Linked DNA regions of Homo sapiens. The protein of the gene in region 5 purifies or fractionates together with the protein of the main gene of each other region. This does not show direct contact. Each region holds a gene or a part of one and is shown on either strand. Other genes may lie near its edges. The genes, in order: PSMD14, USP9X, LIMD1, CCT6B, EGLN3 and RIPK1.

Region 1 (5,123 bases), on a different chromosome or scaffold from region 5:
AAATGTTTATAGCAGGCTTTGAGTATGGTTTAACTTTCCTAATTTTATGAAATTCAAAAAATTTAAAGATAAATATTCAGGAAAATTACACAATAAGTGATTAAAGAAGAAATCTCTAAATAAATTGCTAATAATACCAAGACACAGTTATCAACTTGTACAGTTTTTTTGTTTTTTAAGTAAACAGACAGCAGCTTTCTGTGTAATTAAGAATCCTGCTTTGAACAAAATTGATTTTTATTTAATGTATCTGTAAACAGAATGTGGCAGTAGATGGCAATAAAGATAGAATCTACTCTACCTTTCCTTTTACACTCTGAATGGGATCCACAACCACTGCCACAGCTCTCTCCGACAAGGCTTCAAAGCTCTGCTGAGTGTTGATATCCACACCAGAAAGCCAACAACCAAAGCCAGGGTGACTGTGATACCAACCAACAACCATCTCCGGCCTGAAACAAAGAGGGCATTCAGATGCTCAGAACAGAACAAGTAATACATTTATGATATGAAAAGAAACAACACACTAACGGGGTATAAATTAAGAAGAGATGAAAAACACACAGGTGTGAAAAAGCACCATTAGAAACCCTGAAATTGTACACCATATTATCCAGAAAACATGGAAATGAATATGTGTGACAAAGGAGTGCTATCATTAAGAGATGCACATTAGCAGTGGTAGATAAGGCTTTCAGTTTTTCACCTTGTTACCACAGTTTCTCAGAGCCAGTTTTTACCCTTTCAGCATTCAAGTAAATATCTACTCTTTAACTCCTTAGCTCTGGGAGTTGGATTTTCCAGGCACAGAGTACATTTTTAACAATGGACACCAGGATCCACTGTTGTGAAAGGATTAAATATCAATTAAACCAGCAGTAGAACTAGGAACTCAGTCAAAAACCAATTTGCACTGTTCTGCTCAGCTGCTGAGCCTTTTGCTAACATTAATTTTGAAGTTGTTTCCACAGCAGAAGAATTTGAGCAAGAGAATGACAACTATTGAGAGATTTGGTCTGAGGAAAAAACTTTAGAATATTTGGATTATACTTTCTCTGTCTTTAAAACTATGCCTACAAACATAATTAAATATTCATAATCTCATTCAGTTGCAACTCTCAAATACATGGAACATACAAGCTCTTTCAATTATAAGTGACTAGACAGTAACTCCATATGCTAAACAGAGGGAAGCTACAGCCCAAGCTTACTATGTGACAGTCAAGAATTTTAACATGAGGCAGTTCTCTGATGGGCAAATTTCTCTGGTTCTAAAGGGAAGATATACTAGACAGGTGGTGCATGGCACTGATATTTACAGATACTTTTATGTCAATTACATAACCACTTTTTCTAGAAATGACATTGATAAACATCTATAACTTTGAGGTATGTTTCTATAAATATTTCCCATTATTTCTTTAACTGATCATTTAAAATGCTTACCTTCCTGTCTGCTTCAACATATCCAACATTTTAGCTTGGAACACTGGATCAACTGCCTCCACACTGACACCCTGATTTAGAAAGAAAGAAAAATTATTAATTTTTGTAAATTTGGAAAAAAAGCTTCCCTATGTATATTATTTGGGGTTGCCAAAATCATTTTATAGGTTTTGATACCTACATTTGATACCTACTCAAGTCATTCAATTATAAACCTCATACCAATCAAGCTTCTAAAATTGCCAACTACCAAACTGCTGTTGGCGATCGAGTTAAGCCCACTTTCAGGATTCTTTAAGAGTATATGGCCATTGCTGTGTATATGTTTACCAGAAATACGAAATAATTGAACCAACCATAACTATTGGTTAGACCTATTTAGGCAAGCATACTTCCTAATGCCATCCTATCATAACTGATGACTAAAATGAGCCTCATCCAAAGTTCTACAAATATTCAGCTATCATAATGAAACAGCCTCAAGTCTCTTACATACAGCATTATTTTGCTAGTTCAACCAAAATAAGATATTTGAACAGGAAGAATTAAAAGGTTCAGATCATCTCTCTGGCGATAGAGTACTGTCTTTATAGCTCCCAAGGCTTTCTTCTAACCTCAGGAATCTAAATCTAATGTACTTAAAGAAACTAGTTAACATAAGCACTTCCTTCCCACCAAAACAAACAGTATGCATATTGAATTCCAACAGAGAGTACATCCTCAAGAACAGGGGTATGCAATCTGCTGCTTATAGGCTAAGAATGTTTTCGGTTTTTTTCTTTCTTTTCATATATATACTTTAAAAGGACTGTCTTAAAAAAGAAGAAGAATATGCAACAGAGACATATGTCTTTATAGAAAAAGTTTACTGACTCTGGGGTCAGAAGAAAAACTTTCTAATTCTATGACACTAGAAAATAGAATTAGAGTGAATATAGGGATCAAAATCTTTTATTTTATATTGTCAAACAAGCATTTACATGGAAGTAATGATATTAAAGCCTAAGAACAATGTATTATAATGGGTATCTACATAAGTACCCATAACATATATAAGTTAGTTTTATGTGTTTCATGTAGCCTAATATAAAAAGACAGATACAAGTAATAAATAGTCTAAGATTTAAATCTAAACCTTTGGTTAACATGTAGAGTGTTTCTCTATTTCCAAATGTATAAAATAAATATAATGGATATCAAGATGGATAAAATCAGTAGATCCAAATTAGTTTACCTCAACAAATTCATCTATTTAGAGAAAACTTTACATTATTTTAAATATATTGCATTCTGTAGCAAATATTCTATTTTAAATGCTTATTTTTAATATACATACTATATATATTACAGTACTTAAAATTGTAATTTGTTCTCCAGCATCTACCTTATCAAAGTAAACTTACAGAACTTCGAATAGAACTAACAGCTTTATAACAACAATTTCTTTAATCCTTCTTTTACAAGGCTCAGTAAGAGAAATATTGCCTAGCAAAGAAGAAATATCGCTTGGAAAAATACATGCATATTTTTCTAAGCAAACAGGTGAGAAGGATATATGTGCTTTTTTTGGAAGGTAGATGGAATGGTTATTGTTTTTTGGCTATTTTCTTTCAGTCAAAATGCACATCTATCAACACAAGTCTAATGCATCAAACAAAAAGGCAAAACAAAACAAACATCTCTAGAAAGAATAATGTATTCTATACAGGTAATTTGTATGGAGTACGGTGCATATAAACAAAATACCATGCCTGGGAAAAAAATATTCAGGTTTGCTATTGTTTTGTTTTGCTTTAACTTAACATTTTAAATAAGAAAAGCTTAAAAAGTCATTCATCACCATATATAGAACATTTTTTAAATGACATATTTCAAAACAATGGGAACAAGACATAAGAACCAGTATATGTGAGTTGAAAATCTAAATTAAGAGAATCTCAAATCTTTTGAACACTTGGTTCAAAATCAAACTAACACTCTGCTATTATAGGGTAAGTAACTTTTAAATCCAGTATTTTACACCAGTTTAAGCCGAAGGACTGAGAAAAGAAATTTAGCATTAGCATCATTCAGTTTGTAGACCTATAAGAAGTTATGCTGCGTTTTAAAGATTAATGATTTAATTCAATACAATCTAAAAATTTCTATCAAACTTATGATTAATTTTTCCTACTGGAAAGAGAAAATGTAATATGATGAGAGTTAGTTTGCATAGGAAAAGAAAAATGAAAAGAAACACATTTACTTGCAGCAGGCAACCATAAAAGTACTCACTGTTCCTGACTGTGGCATAGCAAACACATCAATCACTCTGACGGTATAATCATCAACAAATTCTCCAAGCATCAAACCCATAACTTCCATTGGAACTCCAGCACGGCCATGTTTTAACATCTGTAGAAAGGAAGAGATGTGGACACAAAGCAAATTTCGTTGAGGTCTCTGGTTCTTCTTTATAAAACAAAAACCAAATTTTGTTCCAGTGAAAATAAAAACTCCTTTTATAAATGTACCTAAAACAATAGCTTATTTATGTCTGAGAGGATTAAGGTGACAAATATTCCAAAGTAAAAGATACAGTGAAAGCAACAGAGTTCTCTAAAGCAAGTAACTACATTCATTACCTACTTTTAACAGTGCCAGGGAAGAGATATAGACTTGTTCTGCTGTGTCCACTGCAGGAGCATCTGTAGGTGGCCCCTAGAAACAAATACATCAATTATTATTAAAACAAACACAGAGTTTATGAGTTTAAAATTCAAGTTACATGTGGTATAAACTTGATATTTTTAAAATAGTTTTGCAAAACATGTCAAGTATCCTTTTATTTGGCTATGACATAATCAAAACACATTTGCAAATATCAAACCTGTAGAAAACAGGTAAAACTTAATACTAAGCCAAGGGTCTAATGGACATAAAGTTTAAGTCTTTCGGCAATGCCAATCTACCTTGGCTACAACATGGCTATAATGTACCAATTAGCCACATTTGTTACCACAGTGTGTATATGTGAAATGCTGTTGGACTAGCACAATTAACTAAAGCATCAACACAAACAGCAAATTCTTTGAGTATTAATAGATTAAGGCTATGGGATTCCTCTGCAAATTCATCACAACAGTGGAGGAGAAGGGGAAAGAAGACTTCTAATCCCTGGGTGAAAGAGCTGTGAACAACATCCTCTGCATGTCACCTAATGAAGCTGTTCCCCTCCCCCTATACAACAACAAATTTAACACAATTGCCCCAGGTGTGAACAAACCAGTTGAGACAGGTATAGCTGACGTGAAAATACTTCCAAAATCCTAACCACTACCTTTAAAACAAGTATTACTAAGGAAGACACTATGTTTCTCCTTTAAGGATTCTATCTTCTTCCTGAAAGGAAGCAAACTTCTCTTGACTATAACATTCACCTGCACAAGGTAACTGACATATAGTTCTTACCCTCAAGATGCCTATAATCTTATAAATGTGATTCTGCCCCACAATTAGTGCACCTAAAAAGCTTCTTGTTTTTTAATATTGGACAATCTGGGAAATTATAATGAGATATGACTTATAATTGCCAGGTCGTGTTTTGCTTAAAGTTCCCTTTCCCTGACAATAACTCTATTACAAATTAGGTAAACAACATGTTACCTTATCCAAATTGTAAGCCATGTTCTCTCTCC
Region 2 (5,123 bases), on a different chromosome or scaffold from region 5:
AAGGATTAACCCACTGTTGCTCTTGGTAAAAAATTTTCAGAGAATGATCTATGAGCATCTATTGACTCTTCCACATGCTAAATCCGATTGACTAACCATGATGTAAGATATATAGGAGCAGTAACCCTGAACTCACAATAATGCTGATTAAAAACAGAACAATGTTCAAGATGATAAAGTAACCAGGCATGATTAACATAAGAGCTTTCTCAGGGTCAAAGGAAGTTAACCTTCCTTGTGGATTTGGTTCCTTAACCTTTTAAAATGTCTGAACCCTACAGTGCTCTCATTTTTCTGTACATGCTCCATCAGCCAAGCCAAGATTTTAGGCTTAACTTTTTTTTTTTTTTTTTTGAGATGGGAGTTTCGCTCTTGTTGCCCAGGCTGGAGTGCAATGGTGCTATCTCGACTCACCACCACCTCTGCCTCCTGGGTTCAAGAGATTCTCTTGCCTCAGCCTCCTGAGTAGCTGGGATTACAGGCATGCGCCACCACCATACCCGGCTAATTTTGTATTTTTAGTAGAGACAGGGCTTCTCCATGTTGGTCAGGCTGGTCTCAAACTCCTGACCTCAGGTGATCCACCTGCCTCAGCCTTCCAAAGTGTTGGGATTACAGGCATGAGCTACCGCGCCTGGCCAGGCTTTACTTTCTATAGATGAAAATAAGTACGCTGAATGTGTACTTCCTAACTATTCAGTTTGCTTCTATGTACACAGTGAAATGTAAGAAAGAATGCCTGAAATGTTTCTCCAAGTATGGTTCCTGGACCACCAGCAGCATCACTTGGGAACTTGCTAGAAATGTACATTTTCCAGCCCCTTGAAGACCTATGAAATAAGACACTTTAGGGTAGCATCTAGCTCTCTGCTGGAGCAACCCTTCCAGGGAGACTCACGCCTGTGCAAGTTTGAGTACCACTGCCTCACAAGAGCTGATTTAGTCACATTTTGGTTTCAGAAAGAAAAAGTTATCATTTAGAATGTTTCTTCATCTCATTTCTTTTGCTATTTACTAGTTTATTTACTTTAATCACCTATGGAAATCTACCCAAATCCTTTTTTTTCCAGTGATTTTTACCATCACTGAAACCTGTGGCTAAGTAACCAAGGACTTCTTACTTCATTGCCATATCTTAATAATGTTTTTGGAATCCAGGTGAAGATTTTACCTCACCGGAAATGTCACCACAATCCTTTGCACTAAACAATGATCATTTTATGTTGATATAAATTCTCATACAGTTTTATTAACTACTAGCACAAGAAGGACACCTTCTTGACAAGGAAAACCCTACAGTGGTTAAGTTCAAACATGTTACACCATGACCCCCACTCCAAACCATCCCTCTTCTGGATCATGCTCCCAAAGCTAGTCTAGATAATCCTACTTCTTACTTTGTAGTCACAACAAACAATTGAGCCATCCTCTAAAATTAAGCATAAAACCCAGTTCTAGGGGATAAAAGCATAAACTGACTCCTGTTTACCTGTTGATACTGAGATCCAGGTGAATGGGGGTACAATGGGGCATCTTCAGGTGGAGGCGACTCATGTTCATCTGGAGCATCTTGGTCATCTGGCTCCTAATTTTGAATATTTCAAGATAAAAAATTACGTAGGCAAACTCAAGTTTACTTTTAACTTTTTCTATTTGAAATAAATTTTAAAAATCTACAAAACTGACCCATTAGCAACTTTTCTTTTACTGCAGATAAAGAACTTGGGGAAAAAACAAAAAAAAAAAAAACAAAACAAAAAACCTGATTTGCATTCTCTCAGAACTACTACATTTCAGGCAATTTCACAGAAATTTCTCCAAAAGAAAGCTCCCTTCATTAGCTTAAAATGACATAGAATAAACATTCTTTTCTTTTCTTTTTTTGAGATGGAGTTTCACTCTTGTCACCCAAGCTGGAGCCCACTGGCACGATCTCCGCTCACTGCAATCTGTGCCTCCTGGGTTCAAGTCATTCTCCAGCCTCAGCCTCCCAAGTAGCTGAGATTACAGGCGCCTGCCACCACGCCCGACTAATTTTTCTATTTTTAGTGGAGATGGGATTTCACCTTGTTGGCCAGGCTGGTCTTGAACTCCTGACCTCAGGTGATCCGCCTGCCTCGGCCTCCCAAAGTGTTGGGATTACAGGCGTGAGCCACCATGCCCAGCCGAATAAACATTTTTCAAAACCCAAAACTTCAACATAATCTTTTAATAATATCATTAATACATAAACACTGGCCTATAAAATAAAGAATTACTTTGCTCTCTTCCATTTCTATCTGCTGCACACTGGTGGCTTTTTTTACCTCCTCTGGACAGAGTTCACAAGCTTTTGCAAGTGTCATCCTAGCACTATGTGATCTCTCCAAGAAATAACCATTGGACGTTTCATTGCTTTGCACTGGGGGAGACCAATTGTTGTAAGTGTACTGAGGATTGCCAGTATATGGTCTTCTTTCAAGTTCATCTCCAAGCCATTCCACTGCCCAGGTCCACTTTCTTTTAAGATCTCCATTGCCCTGCAAAAGAAAATAAAACCATATAGATAAGAGGATTTGGAATACTTCAAAGTTAACTTAAAATGACAACCCCAAGTTCTCATGATTCTCTTCTTTTAAAACAGAATCCTTAATTCTGATTAAGATTTCTACAAAATTATAAGAAAAAAATCCTCACCTGCAGGATTTGGTAAGCAACAGGACAGTTACTAAATAGAGCTACCATACATTTTATACACTGGTATGCTCTTTTTTGATAGTGATTCTTAGAGCGCTGGATTGTGTCAAACAGCCCATCTCGGTCATCTGGAATTCCTTTCAGTGCATTATGAATTCTGAAAGAGAACCAGATATAAAATAAAAACATCTAAAATCTAATAGCTAATATATACTGAGTGCCTACTATGTGCCACTCAATAATGTCTTTTAGTCATTTAATCTAACATTAGACAATAGGTACTATTATTAAACCTTTATTTTTTATTTATTTATTTTTTTTGAGACGGCCTGGGCTGGAGTGCAGTGGCGCCATCTCGGCTTACTTCAAGTCCTGCCTCCCAGGTTCACGCCTCTCTCCTGCCTCAGCCCAACTACAGGCACGTGCCACCACGCCCAGCTAATTTTTTGTATTTTTAGTAGAGACGGGGTTTCACCGTGTTAGCCAGGATGGTCTCAATCTCCTGACCTCGTGATCCGCCTGCCTCGGCCTCCCAAAGTGCTGGGATTACAGGCATGAGCCACTGCGCCTGGCCTTATTATTAAAACTTTTAACAGGTGAGAAAATTGGCACAGAGTTACACAGCTTGCCGAGGTCATATAGCTGCGGAGCAGTGTGACTCCAGAGTCTGTGCTCTTACTAACTTATTACCAGTCCAAAATAATTCTGCCATATATGTAATTTAAACACATTACCTGAAGTGAATTCAGGACACTCGAGAGTAATGCAAACTTTAAAAAAGTTATAACTAAGTTTATGACTGCTGTAGTTGAGGGTAATTTGCTACACATCAATACCTTTTATAAAACTGCATCTCTGAAGGCAAGTTAGGATTCAGTGACATAATTTGGAGGTACAGTATTTGAATTCTAATAATGAGAATACATGGCAGGCAAAGCATTTTGACAGGCAATAGTACAATTTGGCTGATTTGCCAATAACACAGGATTTCATTTCAGTTTCTCCCAAACTACAACAGAGTAATAATACAAAGCCAACTAGTCCTGTCTTTCCCTGAACTAACTAACTTAAAACATGATTGTAGGGGCACAAACATGCCTTGTTTCTTTTGTGTTAAAAAGATTATGTGCCAGTAAATAAAATGTGGTGTATATATATCCATAAAACAAAATATTATTCAGCTATAAAGTAATGATACATGCTATAACATGGATGGACTCTGAAAACATTAAGCTAAGTGAAAGAAGTCAGACACACAAATTGCATGATTTCGTTTTTACCAAATGTCTGGAAGAGGCAAATCCACAGAGACAGAGAACAGATTAGTGGTTGCCAGGGTTAGAAGGAATGGTGAGTGACTGCTTAATTGGGTAGGGGTTTCCTTTTGGGGTAATAAAAAAAAATGTTCTGGGATGGGCACGGTGGCTCACATCTGTAATCCCAGCACTTCGGGAGGCCGAGGTGGGCGGATCACGAGGTCAGGAGATCGAGACCATCCTGACTAACACGGTGAAACCCCGTCTCTACTAAAAATACAAATAATTAGCCAGGCATGGTGGCGGGCACCTGTAGTCCCAGCTACTCGGGAGGCTGAGACAGGAGAATGGCGTAAACCCGGGAGGCGGAGCTTGCAGTGAGCCGAGATCGCGCCACTGCACTCCAGCCTGGGTGACAGAGTGAGACTCCCTCTCAAAAAAAAAAAAGTTCTGGAATCAGATAGTGGTAATGGCTATACAACATTGTGAATGTACTAAAAGTCACTGAATTGTATACTTTGAAATGGTGAGTTTTGTTATGTAAATTTTACCTCAATTAGAAAACATAACCTGGACACTGAGAATTTAAAGATTCTAATATACACTATGTATTTTACTTAACAGTATGTTTAAAGTCAAAGTAAGATTTTTTTCCTCCATCAAATGCATTCATGATTTCCAAACAAAACAGATTACTTCAACAATTTTGCAAAGCTTAATCATTTCAGACAAATCAACCATGTTCAGGCCCTCTTGCTGTTTCATCTGAAACACTACATATAAATTGCTTTTACCTTCAGTTTTTTCAAGTAACAATGAAGTGCTAAATCATTATTTCTGCCATATCATATTTTCTCCCCATTAGCATCAACTGCTCTCAAATGCCATTTTTATTAATACTATCTTCACTTGCCTTATTACCTGATGCCAAGCAGTGCTGGGCACATGGTAGACACTCTATAAATATTTGAACATTGTTTACTGAATGAACTAAAAGCTCATTATGAGAAAATTATTTTCACGTTTGGGCCAGTGATTCATTTAACAGTATCTTACTAATCTCATTACACAAAAGTGTAATTCCCACATTTAATCTAGCACGTATGTCTTTGCCATTATCACTTGCTCTAATCAAACAAGAGCTAAGATGTGATTAACTGGTTTAAAACTGTAAGTGCTTACAGTACTTTC
Region 3 (5,123 bases), on a different chromosome or scaffold from region 5:
CAGGCTCTCTGCCACTGCCAACAATAATGCTGCCCAGTCCCTGTTACATGGTTAGCTGAAACCCAGGCATCTAGTTATACCTAATGCCACTGTCACAGGACTTTGGGCCGGGAAGGACCCTGAGAGGTCATCTTGGCTCAATAGAGCTAGAGGGACTTGCCCAACATCACACCCTGAGCTGCTGGTGGTATCAGGCCCAGAAGACCTGGTTTCCTGACTCCCAAATATGTGTCTTTCTTGCACAGTTCTGTCTCCTATGTGACAGTCACAAATCAACAGATGTAAAGAAACATAACTTTTTAAGACCCCTGGCAAGAATGATCATGTCAAAATAACCGTTTCATGTTCTGGACTGTTAATGGAAAGAGCAGGAGGGCTGGATGGAAGAAACAAGACATTCTTTCCTGGTCACAAAAGAACAGAGCAGAAACATACCATACCAAGGAGGGAGGACTCCAGAGAGAAAGCATGACGGGACAGGCAGACGCTGTGGGAATCCATGTCGGGACGCGCCAGGGCTACAGCTCCCAGCAGATCAGCCTGCTTGGAAGGGATTGGTGGCATTGGCAGCACAGCACTGGCCAGAAGAACATCCGTTGGGAGCCACCAAGGCAAGGACCTCAACAGGCTCAGAGAAAACAAGGCTGGGATGACGGGGAAGAAGGAGCAAGGTGAGGCACAGGAGGGGTGGGCCAGAGCGAGGGTCTCCAAGGTCACAGTGAGAGGAGTGTGAATCCATCGCACTGGCTGTCCTTCCCCACAGCACTCAACCCAGTGCTGAGAACACAGTGTGACCTGACACGTATGCATCATTGACCTGCTGATTGAGCAAAAAGATGAACCTATCTAAATGAAGTTTGAGAGCTTCCTCACCTCTGCCCCTGGAAAACTCTGAAGAGAAGTGCTGTGGAGAGAGATGGCATGCAGGGACGGGGCTGAGGCACATGATGTAGTCACATCCCTTCAGAGAACACAGAGGACCGAGACGGTATCCAGTCCTTGACCACTGACCACACAGGAGTCACCGCTGTTACAGGGCGAGCTTCCAGCCCAGGAGGACATACAGTGGAGGTGGCCCTGGGCAGACGGCACCAACTCCTTGCTGTCTCCAGCCCAAGCTTCACCCAGGTCAGCCACACGATCTCCATTCATCCATCCCCAAACATGCCATAATGTGTTTTTACATTTTCCAAGTTTTTAAAAGTTACATCAAATCCCATGTTTGTTTAAAAGCCCATTTTTGCTATCAGAAATCAGACAGCTGATCCTTGGACACTTGGTGGTGACTGTACAGGGGCACAAGGAGCGTCCTGGGTGATGGTCATGTTCTGCCTTGATCTGGGTGTTGGCTACACAGATGGGTTCACTTTGTGAACATCTATGATATGTGTACATCGTACATCAATAAAAGGTTAAGAATACATGTCTTCCTGACTTAGGAAGATTGCCTGGTCCATTAAAAAAATGCATGGGCTGGGCACAGTGGCTCACGACTGTAATCCCAGCACTTTGGGAGGCTGAGGTGGGAGATCACTTGAAGCTGGGAGTTCAAAACCAGCCTAAGCAATATGGTGAGACTCTGCCTCAATTTTTTAAAAGAATGCACAGAGACTGCCCGATGTCTAAAGGATTGGGCATCCCCATATCCCTGGGTGTGCATCTGCAGGGCCAGAGAGATTGGAGTCTTGAATGTCACTGACAAATGTTACCAGCAGAGTCAGAAATTTACTTCCATGTCAATGGAAACCTGGATTCGGCTGGTTCAAATTATGGCACATCTCCAAAAGGCATTCTGGTGGCAGTCCCCACGTCATCATATCTAGTCATGCCAGTCACTCAGACAGAGGCACACAGCTGTTGAGCTTCTGTCACTTTCTTCCACTTCAGCAGTTGGTTTGGGTTTAATGAAATGCCTGATATGGGAGGAGGCTGGTTAGCCAGTGCCTCTGGGGAACACAGACAGACCTCTGTTCTGGAATTCTGGAGGGGCTGCTTTATTACAAGACTAGCCCATGTTGTTTCCTTTTATGTGAAAAATGCTCGATTTTTTAATCTAGGCTGGAATTAAGCACCATATTTCAAGCATCTATTGCTAATAAAGTCTGATAAACAGTAATTAAAAAGTCATGAAGGGCCAGGTGCAGTGGCTCACGCCTGTAATCCCAGCACTTTGGGAGGCCAAGGCGGGCAGATCACCTGAGGTCAGGAGCTCAAGACCAGCCTGGCCAACATGGCGAAACCCTGTCTCTACTGAAAATACAAAAATTAGCCGGGCATGGTGGTGCGCGCCTGTAATCCCAGCTATCCAGGAGGCTGAGGCAGGAGAATCGCTTGAACCCGGGGAGGCGGTGGCCGCAGTGAGCCAAGATCGCACCACTGCACTCCAGCCTGGGTGACGGAGTGAGCCTCCGTCTCAATTTAAAAAAAAAAAAAAAAAGTCATGAAAACGAGGAGCAGCTCAGTGTGCAACAGACTGTCAGATGGAAGGGCATCTGTAGTCATGTAGACATGCAGATAGGGCATCTGTAGTCATGCAAATAGGACATGTAGGTACATAGATAGGACATCCACATGTTCCTTGCTTGGACTGCTCGTTTAACCCTGTGCATTGCCAGGAAAGTAAAATCAAGTAAGACAGGCTCCCTGGCCCCGGTCAGGGCAGGGCCATTCTCAGGAGGAGTCACACCTGCTTTCAGGATCCCAGGCTAAGGGGGGTCTGTCACTGCAGTTTTCTGGGTTAGGATACTGCTGAAAGGACATCCACCAAAGACAGAAAAACCAAACACAATGCCAACCCTTCCTTTCTCCATGCTGGTGAGGAGCAGGCCTGTCCATCCACTTCCTGGGTACAGGAGACCCTGGAACCTGCTTATTCTTGCCTTTCCCACCCCTCTGGTCCTAACAGCGAGCAGAATGTGGCTCTCTCCTGGTTAGCTTTAGCCGTGACAGATCCCCAGGCCCACCCACAGCAGGGAGGGTGAGCACAGGGGCTTCAGGTCCAGGGGACACAAAAGTCCACAGCCCAGGCCGGGCGCAGTGGCTCACGCCTATAATCCCAGCACTTTGGGAGGCCAAGGAGGGTGGATCACAAGGTCAGGAGATCGAGACCATCCTGGCTAACACAGTGAAACCCCATCTCTACTAAAAACATATATATAAAAAATTAGCTGGGCGTGGTGGCGGGCGCCTGCAGTCCCAGCTACCCGGGAGGCTGAGGCAGGAGAATGGCTTGAACCTGGGAGGCGGAGCTTGCAGTGAGCCAAGATCGCGCCACTGCACTCCATCCTGGGCGACAGAGCGAGACTCTGTCTCAAAAAAAAAAAAAAAAAGTCCACAGCCTGAAATATGGGGGAAGAAGGCATGGAAAACGCAAGGAGCCCACAAAAGCTCCCTACAGTACGTGGGTGGAGAATGAATCTGGAGGGGCAATAGAAGGCATCCACTCAGACGTGAGAGACCACCTAGTCCCACCATGCAAGTGGTCAGAGCAGAAGCAAAATCCCGACTGGTATGGGAGCACCACTACTTGTACCCATATGGTCTTGAGCAAGTCACTTAACCTCTCTGGCCTCGGTTTCTCAACTGTAAACAGAGAATGGTGCCTACATCAAAACTAAGTGTGCAGGTTAAATGCCAACAAGGCCCACAAAGCACTGAACTCCAGTGCCCGGCACACCACTGGCACTTGACACACGGTAGCTACTACTAGAACCATAATGCCCAAGTCACCCGCTCCTACCTGCCCCCAGGAAGGGGGCACTGTGGGGATGCTGCAAAGGCCCTTCGATGAAGGCGAGGACAGGGGAGGGCACAGCTGCTGGGGTGCGGCAGGCAGGTTGCCCTCCTGTCAGCCCCTGAAGAGACTATCCCAGCTGCACAGAGCTGCCTCGCCCAAAGTCACCATCTTCCTGGGCAGCCCACAGCCAACAGCTGATCCATGAGGGAGTGTGAAGGCCAGGCCATGTCAGGCCAACTAGGATGACCCTAAAGGACTTTTCCAGCTCCCAGGCTCCCTGCGGGGTCAGGTCCCAGCAGCTCAGCTCTCCTCTACCCACTCCTGATTCCTTCTCCATCTTCCACAGGTGGGGACCCCAAAAGCACCTTTTAATAAGCCCTTGTATGGTCAACTCTGTCTCAGTCAGCTTCCCAGGAAACCCAGCCTATGACAAGTGGTTTATTTGTGGGGTTTTTTGTTTTTGTTTTTGTTTTGAGACAGGGTCTCCCTCTGTCACCCAGGCTGGAGTGCAGTGGCATGATCATATCTCACTGCAGCCTCAGCCTCCTGGGCTCAAGCAATCTTCCCACCTCAGCCTCCCAAGTAGCTGGGACTACAGGTGTGCACCACCATGCCTGGCTAATTTTTGTGTTTTTTGTAGAGATGGGGTCTCACTATGTTGCCCAGGCTGGTCTTAAACTCCTGGGCTCAAGCAATTCTCCTGCCTCAGTCTCTTGAGTCGCTGGGATCACAGGTGTGAGCCACCACACCCGGCTTGTGTCCTTTTTCCTTAGAAAGGGAGAAGAGGACCAGTGTGAGGAAGATAGGTGGATCACATGGAGGAGACGGTGGGGCACAACTAACAAAGGCACGGTGCCCTCTGCACCCCACCTCTGCAGTGTCAGCAGTGGTGCTAAAACAGAAGCCACACTGCACTAGGTGGTGTAGGCCAGGAGCAACGCCTAGAAGACCAAAAACCCAACAACATGGACAGAGAGACACAAAGAGGCAACGGGGACAGGGGGTGGGGAGGATGGCTGGAGGAGGAAGTAGGCCCAGCAGAGTAGGGAAAGAGACACGCCTCTGTAGGATCCTATTTTACTAAACCCACAAAGACCAGCCATGGAAAGTGCCAGGAGAGTTCCCGTGCCAAGTTAATCAGTAACTGGAAACTGGGCATCTTGAGACTCTAAGGGCTTACAAAGGTGGCAACAGGGATTCACAAGCTCTTCCCACAAAGTCAAATGCCCAAAGGGACACCTTCAGTTCAACCTAGGAAGGGGCCCAAGCTAACCCAAACATCTACTTTGCTTTGCTTTTGGCCTGAGTGACATCACCTCTCATGGGGAGTTGTGTCACTCTGACTCTCACTGCCAAGCGCCCTGCACCATTAAACATTCTTCTGTTT
Region 4 (5,123 bases), on a different chromosome or scaffold from region 5:
TAATCAAAAATCTTCCCACAAAAACTCTTCAAGACAAATAATCAGACTTTTCCAAAATAATTATCAAGGTGAAAAACAATGAGAGGAAGAAAGAACCTACAAATTAACAAATTAACAGAGACTAAAAGAGATATCACCTAAGTGCACTATACAGACTGTGCGTAGATCTTAATCCAAACAAAACTGAAAAAAATCTGAGACAACTGTTAGACAAATTAGACTATAAACTGGAAATGTGATAGTATTAATGAGTTATTCATTTTTAAGGTGTTATAATGTTTTGTGGATATATTAGGTAAAAGCAGGGGGTTTATGTTTTATGGATTATATGATATTTACAGGTGGTATATGATGTCTGGATTTGCTTCAAAATAATCCTAGGTGGGAGGGGGAAAGAGGGAAGGGTATGCTTCATATGTTAGAAATTGATAAAGATAGCTAACAGTTATGTGGAAATTCCCTATTCTGTTCTCTCTATATATGTTCACAGTTTTCTATAATACAAAGTTTTAAAAGAGTAAATCCAAAATCAACATGGTACTCCATAATCTGGTCCCTTTTGCCTCACCTCCTCTCCCTGTGCTCCAGGCACACTGTAACAACCTAGTCACACTTCTGCCTCAGGACCCTTTCAGAGGTCATTCCTTCTGCTTAGAACCCTCTTATTCCAGATGTGCACATGGCTAGCTCCCTTGTTTCTTCAGAGACCTCTTAGCTCTCCAGGTTCTTATCAGAGTAGTCTTCCCTGTCCACTATAAAATCACACACATGATTTTTTTTCTATTTCAATTAGAAACATAAACTTCTTGGGGAAAGAAATTCTGTTCTGTTTACTCTCATTCCCATTACCTAGAGCAGTGACTTAATATATGGTGAATGAATATATTTATGTTGAATAAAAGTAAGTAATGAATTTAATAAAAGAATATCTTTAAAAAATTCTAGAACCCATATGTTGTCAAAGCTTATGTAATTTACTTTGTATCTGTTCCTAATTTATGCTTCATCTCCATTATTTCTACCATGAAGAGATCAATAGGGTAACCTGGTCTTCTAACAGCCAAAACAGAATCCACCACAACCTGAAAGAGAAATGAATGAGAACAGTTAAGTTATTTGGACTACTAAAATAAACCAAGGGCCCAAACAATCTATCACCAGACTAAGGAGATAAAAGCCTTCAGGATTCAAAACCTAGGGCAAGACCAATATGTGCCACTTTACTATGGATGCTAACAATAGCCAATGCCAACAGACACTTTAGAGTCTAAAGAAACTTCAGAGATCATTAGGTCCAAACCTTTTATTTTACAGATAAGGCAACTGAGATAAGACCTTAAGAAGTCACAGTTTTTAAATAAGATCTAACAGCTAGTAACAGGGCCGGGACTAGAATTCAGGGCTCCCTAACTGCCCAGCGACTACTCTTTCTATCATACCAAGACTATCCAAACTTTTCCACCAAAGGACACCTTAATGGAAAAGAAGGAAAGGTAATCTAAGGTAATAGCTCCAATTTGCTGGCTGTAATAACAGGAAACGTTAAAGTCTCATGTTTTATCGTGAAAAGTTTCCATGTCATCCCATAATATGTTTATCTCAATGTAAAAATAATGTTTTCCCCCAAAATTGTAAAGTAAAATTGACACTCCAGAAAGCTACGTCTCATTTATTCTGTCACATATGACCAGGGATATACAATTTAAGAAGCATAGCACAACACGTCTTATTGCTTAGCTCAGAAAATGATATAAAAATAATAAATAACTGCAGAAATTAAGGGCTAAGTTATAACTACCCTAAAATATACATAAAGCAGAAAAAACTGTATCTTAGAAAACTTTGCCTGAGGTGACATAATATTTTATTTTAGAGGCAAATAAGAAATAGGACAAAGGCCATTGGATAGTGAGAATATCACTGTTTCTGTAACTCTAAAACAGAATGGGTGCCCTAGCAGCATGAAGATTTGGGGCCATTCAAGTACTCTAACAGCAGAAAACACAGCAGAGCCTTTCTTCTGACTCTGCTCATCAAGAAATTGTCTGATCTTAATCTGATTTCCCAAGTTGTTTTTTTTTAACGGTAAGGAGAATCGATCAGAAACAACTCAAGTATTCCAGTACATTTGGCATTTGTAGTTCTCAAAGTAAATTATTAAGGTAGTATTCTGCTTTGTATGTCAATGTCTTGTGAATTTGTTTCCTAAGAATTTATCATTCTTCCTGGTAAACAAATATATTCAAGTTTCAGAAATTACAAAGCTGAAAAACAATAATGATATCAAATCATTGCCACCTGATAAAAGCCTTCCCAAAATATCCAGCCAATCTTGTCTTTATATAAAATATATATATATATATATATATATTTTTTTGAGACAAAGTTTCACTCTGTCACCCAGGCTAGAGTGCAATGGCATGATGTCAGCTCACTGCAACCTCCCCCTCCCTCCCAGAGTGATTCTCCTGCCTTAGCCTCCCAAGTAGCTGGGATTACAGGTGCCTGCTAACATGCCCAGCTAATTTTTGTATTTTGAGTACAGACAGGATTTCACCATGTTGGCCAGGCTGGTCTCAAACTCCTGACCTCAGGTCGTCTCCCCACCTCGGCCTCCTAAAGTGCTGGGATTACAAGCATGAGCCACCATGCCCAGCCTATATAACATATATTCTACCTTTAGAAATAAACAAAACACTGGCCAGATGTGGTGACTTCATGCCTGTAATCCCAGCACTTTGGAAGCCCGAGGTGGGTGTATCATTTGAGGTCAGGAGTTCAAGACAAGCTTTGGTAACATAGTGAGACCCCATCTCTACTAAAAATACAGAAATTAGCCAGGCGTGGTGGCACGCGCCTGTAATCCCAGCTACTCGGGAGGCTGATGTAGGAGAATCGTTTGAACCTGGGAGACGGGGGTTGCAGTGAGCTGAGATCATGACACTGCACTCCAGCCTGAGTGACAGAGTAAGACTCTGTCTCAAATAAATTAATAAAAGAAATAAACTAAACAAACATACATTTCCAATATGTGAATATTAATATATTAATATATCATATCACATTTCATTATATTGGTAACCTTATCTACAAGGTACACTGCTAAAACAACTATCTTGTGTGTCACCTCACATAATAAAATATGGACTGCTAGATTTAAAAAGACCAGTATACTATTCAAGAGCTTCCACAGGAGATGATCTGCAGGCAGCCAAACCTCTCCCACCTTTCAAGTCACGTTTAAAAAAAGGCCTAGTATGATACTTCTGAAAATTACAAATACTGTTCTGACCAGTCAAATCTAATCTACAGTTAGGCCTATACAATAATTGTCTGTCTTCCATATTTTATGCCCAAAAAACCACATGAAATACTTGATTATCTTACAGAAAAAGAAAAATATCACCATGCATTAGGCTATATTTGTTCTGAATGCAAAAGTTTAATAACATACCTCTGTTAAGACATCAGCCAGTTCAGCATGAACTTTAGTTTGTAATGATGTTCTAGCTACATCTAAGAGGATTTTTCTTTTCATCTCCTTTGTCACTTTAACTTCCTCCAAAACTTCAAGTGCTTTTATCTTTGCAGCTTCAAATCCTTCAGCTATTATTCTAGGGTGCAGGCCCTGTTACATCAACATAAAATTATAAATTATAAAATAAGTCACCCAATGTAAAAGTAACCAACCTGTCTGATTATTATGTTCAAAAAAAGTTACTCACATTAATGCCATGAAATATAAGTGTACATAATTTATAAAAGTCATTTTAGTGCTTCATACTTGAAATAATCTCAACCTTAACAGTAAGGCTTCAAGTCTAGTATTAAAAATTACAGAAGTCCTTTTTATTTCCAAAAATTATGACTACATTGTTGTTATGTGGTGCCCTTCTGAATGGGCACACATAAAAAGATTCCTTTCAATGCAGAGGAAAAGAACCACCACTGAATTGGGGAAAAGTGGCAGATAGAACACTGTGGTGTCTACCACTTCACCAAGTGATCAAAGTTAACATCACAATAATGAGACAGACAGGCATCACATGCCTGCTGACATGATGCATTCAGTAGAACACAACAGTTCTATGGTATTTTGGCCAACAATCTGTAACCTAAGTTTAATTGAGGAAATAGGCAAATCCACACTGAGGGACTTTCTACAAAATAAATGGCTTAAAAGTAGCAATATCATGAAGCATAAAAGGCAGCTCAGGAACTAGTCTAGCTTAAAGGATACTAAAGGAACACGACAACTGAGTGCAATGCATGAACTTAGATCTTTTTTTTCTATAAAGAGCACTATTAATATAAGTGGTGAAGTTTGAATAGAATGCAGATTAGATAACAGTAATGTATCAATGTGTTAATGTTATTATTAATTTCCTGGTTTTTATAACTATACTGCAATTATATAATTCCCTGGTTTTAAGAAATATACACTGAAATATTTAGATCATGTCTGCAACATACAGTTTAGAAAAGAATAAGTACACTGATACTAAGGAAGAGAACAGGGCAAGCAGGCAATGAGAGAAATGAAAATGCTTGAAGAATCTGGGTAAAAAGTATACAGGAATTCTTTGTAGTATGTTTGCAACTTTTCTATAGGTCTAAAATTATGAAAAAATATTTTAATAGTATTTTTTGTTCCATAAAATAATACACAAACTTTGTGAAAGCTAGCACTTGGTCTAATTCATTCCCTTACTACTTTTCTTTACATCAATCCTTAATAATCTTTAAAAGTTGACATTGAGTATTTGTGCTGGACATGACTAAGAGTTTTACACAAGTTATTTAATTCTCTAGCCACATCATGAAGTGGGTATTATTATTATTATTTTTCCTATTTCACAGATGAGAAGACCGAGGCTTAAAGGGATAATGTAATTTGCCTTAGATCACCAAGATAATAAGAAGTGAAACCAGGTTGTTTAAACCCATGAGACCTGACTTTAGAGCCTATGTTATTAACCATTTTCAAAAATGTCTTCAAGCTAGGACCCCACAATCTCTCATCCAGACTATCATGAAAACCTCTGGTCTAGACTCCCTTAAAACCATCCCCCAAATACTTAAAATGCCAACCTGACCATATCAGTCATTAGTATGTTTCTATG
Region 5 (4,971 bases):
TCTGCTTGTCCTCGTAGTCGATCAAATATATAAGTACCTGACATATCCAAACTCCTATCTTATATAAACTGCTGGCCCAGCATGGCATTTCCCATCATTGCTTTCTAAAACACAGGAAATTTCAGTACTGAATGGCCAAAAGAAATTAGGACGACCCAGCCTCTAAAAAACCTGAGTTAAAGAAAAACAAAATCATGTCTGAATGGATAATTCATGATTCTGACAGTCCAGCATTTAATGGTATTAACTACTCTACTAAGGATCTATCTAATGCACTTAGGTAAGACTTTTTATTTCCATGAAATTGGATCTTTGGTTCAAAATTTAATCTCCTACCAAGAACTCTGGACTATATAAGTGACATAATGGTGAGGTAGGCTCTTAATATTTCATTGCCGGGAATATAAATGAAATTGATCAGATTATTTGCCAAATAATGTTTCTTTAGCAGGGCTAACTCCTCCCCTAAATGGGCTGTCAAAGAGAGGAGCAAAAAACAGACTCCTAGCATTAAAGTTGTATTTTCCAGCTTAATTTTCCAGGACTCAAATTGAGTCATTAAAAAAAAAAAAAAAAAAAAATCAGTGCACATAAAAAAAGTGGTTTGTTAGCTTATAGGACCTTTGTCTGGAAGGAATAAACAAAGCCTTGGAGGTCAGATCTTTTGGCATATTGACTAAAATGAAAAATACAAGACATGCTTTTGGAACTATATGATCCTCCTTCAGAATATTGTCACTATCATTCTTATGACATTAGAAATCATGAAAAATATATAACTACAATTTTACAGAATACAAAATTCCTAATAAACTTCGTCCTTTCTTTCCTATTGAAATTTTTCAAGATTGTTCGAAAGGGGAATTCACTCTGTCCTATCTGAGACTAATGTTATTTTACTAATGTTGTTTCTAGGATATGGAAGGGCAAAATATAATTTGTTCAATTTTCAGATTCATAGTGGTCAGTGAATGACCTATTCATGGGTATACAAATACGAAGCAACACTATGACCAAAGCGTTCTAAAACTCTTAGCGTAAATGTGTAAGTCAACAATGTTAAAAAGATGTGTGTAAAAATTCTAGCAAGCCCTTCCTGCCAAAGATGGAATATATTAATCAAACCATTAGAATGCTAATGTAGGAGACTGAGTTTATTCAACAAGTATTTACTGAGCCCTTACTATGTTCCCGGCACTATTTTAGGTGCTGAGAGTATGTTGCATTGGTTAAAAATATACAAAATTCCTGTCTTCATTGTGCTTACACTCCAGAGAAAGGATACAAGACAATAAACATAATAAGTGAATAAATTACATAGTAATTTAGAAGGTGATAACTATTACCGTACAACAAAATAGAGCAGTCGTTGAGAATTAATGGTGACATGTCTTATCTGGAAATTTTCCAAAACCAGAAGAGGAAAAAGTAAACTTCTATCTTGGAAGACTATATATATATATATCCGTACATAACAAAGGAAAATATTTCTGGCTCTTTAATGTTCATGGGATTTTCAAGCAAGAAATTAAAGGGATTTTTAAAACATGAAAGTAATACTGAAAACTAGGAAAAGTAGCTTTTGCAAAATACGTGCTCAATACCAAGTTATTGAGGCAGTGCGATCTGTGCTTACTGCAGGAGTAGAAGCTTCCACAGTTCTAGCAAATTCCATGATTCTGGTCATACTGCCAACCACAGTGGATCTAGAGAGCCAAGTGAGCTGAAGAAAGACTGCTAGGGACAGACGAGAACTCAAATAGCTTTGAGATTTTTTTATTTCCACTTCCTTTTTTAAAATACATCACCTTGCTTTTTTTGTGTTAAAGGGTGAGCTCATTAAAAAGGAAAACTAAAAAAAAAAAAAAAAAAAAAACAGGAACACCCACATTTCCAACTCCACCTCCCCTCTCAAATTGTTCAAGATGCACACATGTTTATTGTATATCAGTAGACCTAGCTCTTTCCACAGTTATCAGTGGTTAACACAAAACTACCAGGGATATATTTTTCCTTTCATTTAAATTTAAATTCCATTCCAACAAAGCAACCAAAACAACTAATGTCTAGTTTTTTAGCTTCTGGGGAATTAGGTTCCCAGGTAAGAACTGAAAATGGAGAAAAAATTGTGTTGCCATCTTTATTCAGAAAGTCATTATTTTCAGCAAAATGGGGCTGAGGCAGAAAATCCAGGTTGCAGGACTGGGAAAAAAGGAGTGTCTGCCCCATGGGACACTTATAAATTGTTCACTATGACAGCAGCCCTTTCTAGAGGTATTAATGTCATTAGGTTGTGATAATTCTCCAGAAACCCCAACAGCCCTGGATTAAGAACATCTGGAAATTGTTCAGATGACACAAATTTCTCTGTTTCCTGCTGTTAAGGCTTCCGTGATGCCTCTCTGTGGCATCTACCACCTCCATTTTTTTCTTTTCAAACCTCCTCCTTTCAAATCAGGAAGTATACATAAAGTGCAAGTAAGGTTCATTCCCTCGCTGTGCTCCTAGGCTCTTCTCTTGATAGTATTACCGAATCTATCAGGTAAACCGCTGGCCGAGTAGGATGTCTGCAGGAATTTCTGGAGTTAGCAAGTAACTTCATCTGGCAAAGAGAGTATCTGAAGATCAACACAGTCTTGGCAAGAAAACATGAAGTACCACACACAAGACAGGGATGTGAAGGATGCAAGAAGTAGCAGGGAGATTGTTGTCACTGAAGAGGCCATCTTTGGATCTCAAAGAATTTAAGAGAATTCAGGAACCGTTACTAAAATGAACAAGGCCAGCAGATTTCAGAGCACGGTCAGTCTTCAGTGAGGGCAGATTCAGTTTTCCCTGGGTTGGGGACAGAAAGGAGAATAAAGAGGGTATGGAGTCAGCTCTGATGAGTTTTATGTCACAAATGTCACCAAAAAGCCTCCAGTAAACACTTCCCATCTTATATAAGCCTCCTAATAGAGCTCTGCCAAAGGATTCTCTCTTGACTTTGCAATGGGATCTTTCCCATATGCCTCACAGACTGTGGAGGAACTTTGGGTTTACATCCAGCATTGGCACCTCTTGGGCTAATGCTGAGCATAAGTTGTATGAAGTGTAGCCTCACTCACATATCAGAGTTAAGCAGTGTAGGCCATCTGGAAGAGAAAACAAACTGAGATTTCCTGGGTGCAATTTGGAGACCACTTTGGTATTTGAGAGGTATACAGTCCAAATGGGTTATGGGCTAGGCAATATTATATATGTTTCCTTACTGCAGGATCTCTTAGCGCCTTAATTTAATATGCTAGTGAGCAATGTGACTCTTTTTAAGACAGGCATACAGCATGCAACATTTCCCACATTTTTGGGACCAGGAATTTACCAAATTGGCAGGATTTGTGTTTTAATGCAACGTATTTTGGGAAATGCTGCCTTCTAATACTGGTTGGAAGGGATAGGAGTAGTGCTGTTATATTCAGTTTATATTACATGAGCCCTGCTGTTATACTGAGAGTCACAGTCTCACCCAATATAATAAATTTTGCCATCATAACTGGGTTCCATTATATTTCCTTTGCAATATGCCAAAAATCATGGGCAAAATTTAATGTTACATTTGACTGGTTAACATTAATAGGAAAAAGTTAACTATTTCCCATCTATCATAAACCATCATACATTCAGTGGGCATTCTCAGGGGAAGCCCCTTGCATTGTTTCTGATTTTTCTAAGAGCCCTAAGGCCAAGGTTTCAGGATAAAACCCATCAAGATGTCATTATATATAAAGCTAAGCCGTAACAGATTGAACAGAACATGTTTAAAACTACATAAAATTGAATAAAAGTCAAGGATTAACTTGATCAAAAGTCACAGAAAATTATCAAACACATACTAGTTAAATTCCTGAATTTCTTTTTGGCTTCTGCCCTTTCTTCAGCATCAAAGTACCAGACAGTCATAGCATATCTGTGAAAGATAAGCAGATATAAGGAAAGAGATTTAATGGTACTACTAGAAACACAAATGTCCTATAAATCTCACATTAAAAGTTTTAAAGTTTTCTCTATTATTAGAAGTCTACCCTGATTTATTTATTTATTTATTTATTTATTTATTTATTTATTTTTTGAGATGGAGTCTTGCTCTGTTGCCAGGCAGAGGCGTGATCTCGGCTCACTGCAACCTCCACTTCCCAGGTTCAAGCGATTCTCCTGCCTCAGCTTCCCAAGTAGCTGGGACTACAGGTGCACGCTACCACACCCAGCTAATTTTTAAATTTTTAGTAGAGATGGGGTTTCACCATGTTGGCCAGGATGGTCTCGATCTCTTGACCTGCCCACCTCGGCCTCCCAAAGTGCTGGGATTGCAGGTGTGAGCCACCATGCCCGGCCTGTCTACGCTGATTTTAATTTAAAATTAACTTCTCTGGTTTTAATTCTATTTCAATGTAATAAAATGCATAAGGAATTCCAGGTATGTGCCAGAAATTATCTTGGGCATTAGGAATTCAAATGACCCTGTGATCAGATCTTCCTCTGCGATCTCAGGCTCCAAGTAGGGGAGACAGGTGATTTTGCAATAATGCAACAGGTAAACATAGCCTCTACAGAAAGGACTAGAAGGGAGTCATTCTGCTAAAGACTGGGAGACCCAAGTTGGTGGCGAGAACATAGAGAAGAGATGACATTTGAGTGAAGCTTTGAAAAACGACTTATGTAAATCACAGTATGTTTAAAACTCTTGGCTTGCTTTCTTTAGTTTTGGACATTGAGGCAAAATTGCAATTGAATAATAATAATGCCCCAGAGCTTTCTACTGCATCCCCACTAATTTGCTTTATCCCATTCATTGGATAGACTGTAATGGGAGCCATTTCATGCTTGGTTTTTTTTTAAAGTTTCATTTTGTAATGATTGTTAGCTACTTCCGTAGCTAACAATTTCTATAGCACTTGAGTTTTTTTCAAGGGACTTCTCATCAACATTTGCTAA
Region 6 (5,123 bases), on a different chromosome or scaffold from region 5:
AAAGGAATTATATGGAAATTACAAAGATATTTTGCAGAAGTAACATAAGAAAACTTTCAAGAAGAATTATCAGAGAAATTTTAAGATTCCACTATGTCCTTCTCACAAGTAAGAAAGTTCAAGGTTGCTAGGCGTTGAGTCCTTCCAGGGTATCTTACCAAAGATAGCTTGGTACTTAGCAGCTGGCTCTTCTTTGAAGTTCGTATTTGTGCTGTCTAGTAGTGATGAACTCGTCCCACCAATCTCCATATAATTGTAGGCTCCAATCTGAATGCCAGTACTATTGTATATGGTATATTTTATAGATTCATCTGCATAGAGAGAAACACACAGGTAAGTAATTCTAGATCAAAAGCAAGAGAAAAAAATACAGCATGGCAAAAAAGCAGGGCTTTATGCCAAACATTAAGTTAATTATCCTATGCCACCCTTTAAACTTTTCTTCTTTCAAATCTGGCTAAACCACCTCATACCCATTAGGATGCCTATGATTAAAAAAAAAAAAAGAAATAACACATATTGACAAAGATGTGGAAAAAATGAAGCCCTTGTGCACTGCTGGTGGGAATGTGAAATGGTGCAGCTGCTCCTATAAAGAGTATAGTGGGCCAGGTGCGGTGGCTCACACCTGTAATCCCAGCACTTTGGGAGGCTGATGCAGGTGATCACCTGAGGTCAGGAGTTCAAGACCAGCCTGGCCAACATGGTGAAACCCCTTCTCTACTAAAAATACAAAAATTAGCCAGGCGTGGTGGTGGGTGCCTGTAATCCCAGCTACTCAGGAGGCTGAGGCAGGAGAATCACTTGAACCCAGGAGGCGGAGCTTGCAGAGTGAGCCAAGATCGTGCCACTGCACTCCAGCCTGGTGATAGAGTGAGAGTCTGTCTCAAAAAAAAAAAAAAAAAAAAATCGTGATTCTTCAAAAAAATTAAAGATAGAATTACCATATGATCCAGCAATTCCGTTTCTGAGTATATACCCAAAAGAACTAAAACAGGGTGTTGAAGAAATATTTCTACCCACGTGTTCACTGCAGCATTATTCACAATAGCTAAAAGGTGGAAGTAAGCCAGGCACCCATGAGCAGATGAGTGGATAACCCAACTGTGGTCTAGCTACACAATGGAATAGTCAGCCTTGAAAAGGAAGGGAATCACATCACATGCTACAACATGCATGAAGCTTGAGGACATTTCCTAAGTGAATGAAGCCAGCCACAAAGAAAAATGCTGCATGGTTCCACTCACATGAGGTACCTAGACTGGTCAGAGTCACAGAAACAGAGAGTAGAATGGTGGTTGTCCGGGGCTGGGAGGGGAGCTGGGGAGTTGGTGTTTAATGGATACAGAGTTTTAGTTTTGCAAGATTAAAACAGTTATATAGATAGATGGTGGTGATGGTTGCATAACACTGTGAATGTTAGATAATGCCACTGTAAAAATGGTTGAAATGGTAAATTTTATGTTTTTGAATTTTACCATAAAAAAATGTGGCTAACACCAAGTCAGAAAACAGAAGTGGATGAACAACACAGCAAAGCTCAGCCACACTTCCCAGCGGGATCCCACGACTCTGAACAGCATCTGTGAAGGGTCCTCCTCCTTTACCTGATAAACTCAAACCTCTCAGGTTCAGTATTCAGAAGCTAGCCACAGCTCTGCCCTACCCTCTTGTCTCTGATCTTCCTTTCACTGTTTCCTCCCTGTCTCCACTCCAGAGACTCCAGTCCCACCAGATTTCCCACCGATCTGCTGACATGATGCTCCTGCCTCTGCCTGGACTGCTGACCTCCCCACGTGCTTCTCCCTGCTTGTGAGTTTCTGACATAGGCCCAGCACAAATTCCACCTCCTTCCATGAGCCTGCACTGTAATCCTAGACTCAGCACTCTGCCCTGCGCCGCTCTGTATCTGAGCTGGGTCTGTTTGACTTCTCCACTAGAATGTGAGTCCCAAGGGCAGCGACCACACCCACTTGTTTTTGTACTCCTTACACTCGCTAGCCTGGGCCTTGGTACGGGGCATGGGCTCAATGACATTCATGCTGAGCTGAATTTGTCAAGTGTTGGTACTGTCCCTAAAGAGCACTTGGCATATCTTTGTAGGAGAGAGAAGGTGGTTGAGAAGACAGTTCTGAGGAGGGAGGGAAATGAGTATCAGCTCAAGGTACCTCCGTCAGCACACCTGGCCCTAAGGTAGGCCACCCTCTGGACCAGGCACTGTGCTCATTTGTTACATTTTCTCTGAGGAAGCCAAGGAAACTAGGGACCCTCTCTACTGAAAGGTGTAAGAAATATAGGATGTGCACACACACGCCATCTGTGTGCAATTCAGGGTGTTCGTGAAGCTGCTGAAACTGGGGTCCTTGGAATCCTAGCAAGGAACCCCTGTGACAGTCTCTGAGGTGCCTTCCAGTGCTCAAGGCTGTCTAGGTGTTCTTTGCTGACAATGATAATAACAGTGCTAATAACAGCAGCTACCGTTTACTGAGCACTTACTCTGCGCATCGCCAGGCACAGTGGTAAGCTGCCTTACCCTGTTTAATCCTCCTGGCCCACCACCTCCAGCTTACACTGACACCGTGTTCGTCACTCACAGTCTGCGCTCACCGCGGGCTTACATGGAGGTTTATTTACCCTGCACCTCTCTACTTGGAAATCTGTGTTCTTGAATCAGTGCTTTCTGCCCAAATCTGACCACTGGAAAAACCATGAAAGTTACGAAGTGGAGAAACGAATGCAATACTAGAAACATACTAGAGCTGATAATATATAAATTTTCAGTTGTAACATTTTCATTTATAATTGAGGAGAATGAACTCTGGAGAGGCAAATGACTTTCCCAAAGTCACCCATATAGTGACCGGCACAAGCAGGACTAGACCTGGGTCTCCTGACTCTTAGCCCAGTGAGCTTTCCTTTTCTAACCTCACTTCAAGCAGCACAGTGAATAAAAAGCAGTGGGTCTAAGAGCTCTTTCACTGAAAGGAAGACATTTATTTTCCTTTTGTACTTACTGCATACACACCCTTCTTCTATGGTATGGCAAATTAGAAAACTCATATTTTGGTATAGAGTTAGGACTTTTTGATGATAAAAGCAAGCAGAAGACTTATTTAAATTTGCAAGGAGAAACTCAGCGTGTTCATTTACTAGCTTAGTACCTGGCAGGATCATCTTTGGGAGCAGAAACACAGAAAATTCTATTATCTATTGTAGATCCAAGCGCCCCTTTCCCACTGAAAGCATCTCAGAACCCTGAAGAAGCTGCATCCCTGTACATCTGTCACTGGCAGAACCAGGAACCAGAACGAGGTGAAAACACAAAGAGATTTCTGGCACTAAACGGGTGTATTTGGGTTGCTCATGTAGAAAAAAGATAAAAAATGACACATTAAATATTGGTTTAGGGTCTGCCTTCTGTCCACTAGGATTTAAACTGTGTGAGGGAAGGGACTCAGGCTGTTTGTTCAGTTATAGCTCCAGTGCCTGGAGAACTGCACGTCACAAAGTGGGAAGAGTTTTGGAATTTTTTTTTTTTTTTTTTTTTTTTTGCGACAGTCTCGCTCTGTCACCCAGGCTGGAGTGCAGTGGTGCAATCTCGGCTTACTGCAACCTCTGCCTCCCGGGTTCAAGTGATTCTCCTGCCTCACCCTCCCAAGTAGCTGGGATTACAGGCGCACGCCACTATGCCCAGCTTTTTTTTTTTTTTTTTTGTATTTTTAGTAGAGACGGGGTTTCACCGTGTTAGCCAGGATGGTCTCAATCTCCTGACCTCGTGATCTTCCCACCTCGGCCTCCCAAAGTGCTGGAATTACAGGCGTGAGCCACTGTGCCCAGCCAGTGGAATTTTTTTTTTTTTTTCGAGACACAATCTCACTCTGTTGCCCAGGCTGGAGTGCAGTGGCATGATCTCAGCTCACTGCAACGTCTGTCTCCAGGGTTCAAGTGATTCTCCTGCCTCAGCCTCCCTAGTAGCTGGGGCTAAAGGCATGCGCCACCACGCCTGGCTAATTTTTGTATTATTTAGTAGAGACAGGGTTTTACCATGTTAGCCAGGCTGGTCTCGAACTCCTGGCCTCAAGTGATCCACTCACCTCAGCCTCCCAAAGTGCTGAGATTACAGGCATAAGCCACCACACCTGGCCAACCATGGCCCCAGCTGAAATTTTTATTGACTTAATCATGAATGAATAAAATGATATGGCAATACTAATAAAAAATTTTATCCCCAACATGAAGGAAACAAAAGGACATTCTGCTCATAGGATTATACATGACTTGGATACTGCTTAATGTCTAATCCAATATTTTGCATTCTACAGATCTTATCATAAAACCTATGGAAGAAATCGAGGATGTTTGCATAGGACGTTTTTGGAGAATTTGGCCTTTTGAAAGAAAATGTAACTAAGCTCTGTGGTTCTGAAAGCTTCCTCTACCTGAGATGATTTCAAGATCTCCAGGACACCTGTGGGTATCATTGGTAGATGCTGTTCAGGTAGTTAAGGTGATGTTGGTGAGTATTATTTGATAAAAATGCTGGATATTACATTAACTCACTTCCATTCTAGACTGCCAGTAACTACTATCACCTACCTTTTACTTCACCTGATAGAGATATGGGAGTTAAAAGAAAATTTTTCATCACTAATGGTAGTCTTTGAGCTATATAAGGTCAGAAACAAAAATATCCAAGACTGATTTCTTACCTTCAAAAAGTAGCAAGCAAGGTAAAAGCAAATAAGCAGATAACTTCCCATTTATCAGAGATTGGGTGAAATAGGACTACTATGCACTCCAGGTTAGAGTCAAAGATGCCTGCCAGTCACAAGGACCTGTAACCCGATGCTTGCGGGCATCTGTGATGAATCCTAGCCCCAGATGAAATACTCCCAGACCAAGTGGTTTGGCAGGGTCCATTCCACAGGGGCAATTTGCATCTGGCAGCTGATGATGCCCTCTGTCCCCATTATAACCCACAATCTATAATAGAGCTGCTTGGTTGCTGTATTTTCTGAAAAATAAAAAAAGACAAGCTTGTGACTATCGAAGACCCATTTACCTGTTGGTGGCAAGGAGCTGAATGGCATGGTGGGTGTATTTCCTAGATAGTTGGTCTCAGG

The links.
Region 1: the proteins of EGLN3 (region 5) and PSMD14 purify together in Homo sapiens (affinity purification with mass spectrometry; 2 studies listed by BioGRID). This does not show direct contact.
Region 2: the proteins of EGLN3 (region 5) and USP9X purify together in Homo sapiens (affinity purification with western blotting; 2 studies listed by BioGRID, with this or other methods). This does not show direct contact.
Region 3: the proteins of EGLN3 (region 5) and LIMD1 purify together in Homo sapiens (affinity purification with western blotting; 2 studies listed by BioGRID and IntAct, with this or other methods). This does not show direct contact.
Region 4: the proteins of EGLN3 (region 5) and CCT6B purify together in Homo sapiens (affinity purification with mass spectrometry; 2 studies listed by BioGRID and IntAct, with this or other methods). This does not show direct contact.
Region 6: the proteins of EGLN3 (region 5) and RIPK1 purify together in Homo sapiens (affinity purification with western blotting; 2 studies listed by BioGRID, with this or other methods). This does not show direct contact.

The regions. Positions count from the first base shown.
Region 1 is NC_000002.12:161,366,501-161,371,623, reverse strand, and holds part of PSMD14 (26S proteasome non-ATPase regulatory subunit 14), read right to left. Parts: intron 4,147-5,123; coding exon 4,075-4,146; intron 3,841-4,074; coding exon 3,721-3,840; intron 1,518-3,720; coding exon 1,447-1,517; intron 453-1,446; coding exon 302-452; intron 1-301. UniProt on the Homo sapiens protein: Component of the 26S proteasome, a multiprotein complex involved in the ATP-dependent degradation of ubiquitinated proteins.
Region 2 is NC_000023.11:41,226,963-41,232,085, reverse strand, and holds part of USP9X (ubiquitin carboxyl-terminal hydrolase 9X), read right to left. Parts: intron 2,834-5,123; coding exon 2,677-2,833; intron 2,520-2,676; coding exon 2,307-2,519; coding exon of another isoform or gene 2,259-2,306; intron 1,586-2,258; coding exon 1,490-1,585; intron 1-1,489.
Region 3 is NC_000003.12:45,600,150-45,605,272, reverse strand, and holds part of LIMD1 (LIM domain-containing protein 1), read right to left. Parts: intron 1-5,123. UniProt on the Homo sapiens protein: Adapter or scaffold protein which participates in the assembly of numerous protein complexes and is involved in several cellular processes such as cell fate determination, cytoskeletal organization, repression of gene transcription, cell-cell adhesion, cell differentiation, proliferation and migration.
Region 4 is NC_000017.11:34,950,972-34,956,094, forward strand, and holds part of CCT6B (T-complex protein 1 subunit zeta-2), read right to left. Parts: intron 3,629-5,123; coding exon 3,455-3,628; intron 1,083-3,454; coding exon 979-1,082; intron 1-978. UniProt on the Homo sapiens protein: Component of the chaperonin-containing T-complex (TRiC), a molecular chaperone complex that assists the folding of proteins upon ATP hydrolysis.
Region 5 is NC_000014.9:33,923,088-33,928,058, forward strand, and holds the end of EGLN3 (prolyl hydroxylase EGLN3), read right to left. Parts: intron 3,947-4,971; coding exon 3,873-3,946; intron 2,836-3,872; coding exon 2,804-2,835; 3' UTR 1,140-2,803; downstream 1-1,139. UniProt on the Homo sapiens protein: Prolyl hydroxylase that mediates hydroxylation of proline residues in target proteins, such as PKM, TELO2, ATF4 and HIF1A. Target proteins are preferentially recognized via a LXXLAP motif.
Region 6 is NC_000006.12:3,105,991-3,111,113, reverse strand, and holds part of RIPK1 (receptor-interacting serine/threonine-protein kinase 1), read right to left. Parts: coding exon 5,063-5,123; exon of another isoform or gene 4,323-5,062; intron 3,313-4,322; exon of another isoform or gene 3,217-3,312; intron 1,813-3,216; exon of another isoform or gene 1,718-1,812; intron 312-1,717; coding exon 159-311; intron 1-158. UniProt on the Homo sapiens protein: Serine-threonine kinase which is a key regulator of TNF-mediated apoptosis, necroptosis and inflammatory pathways.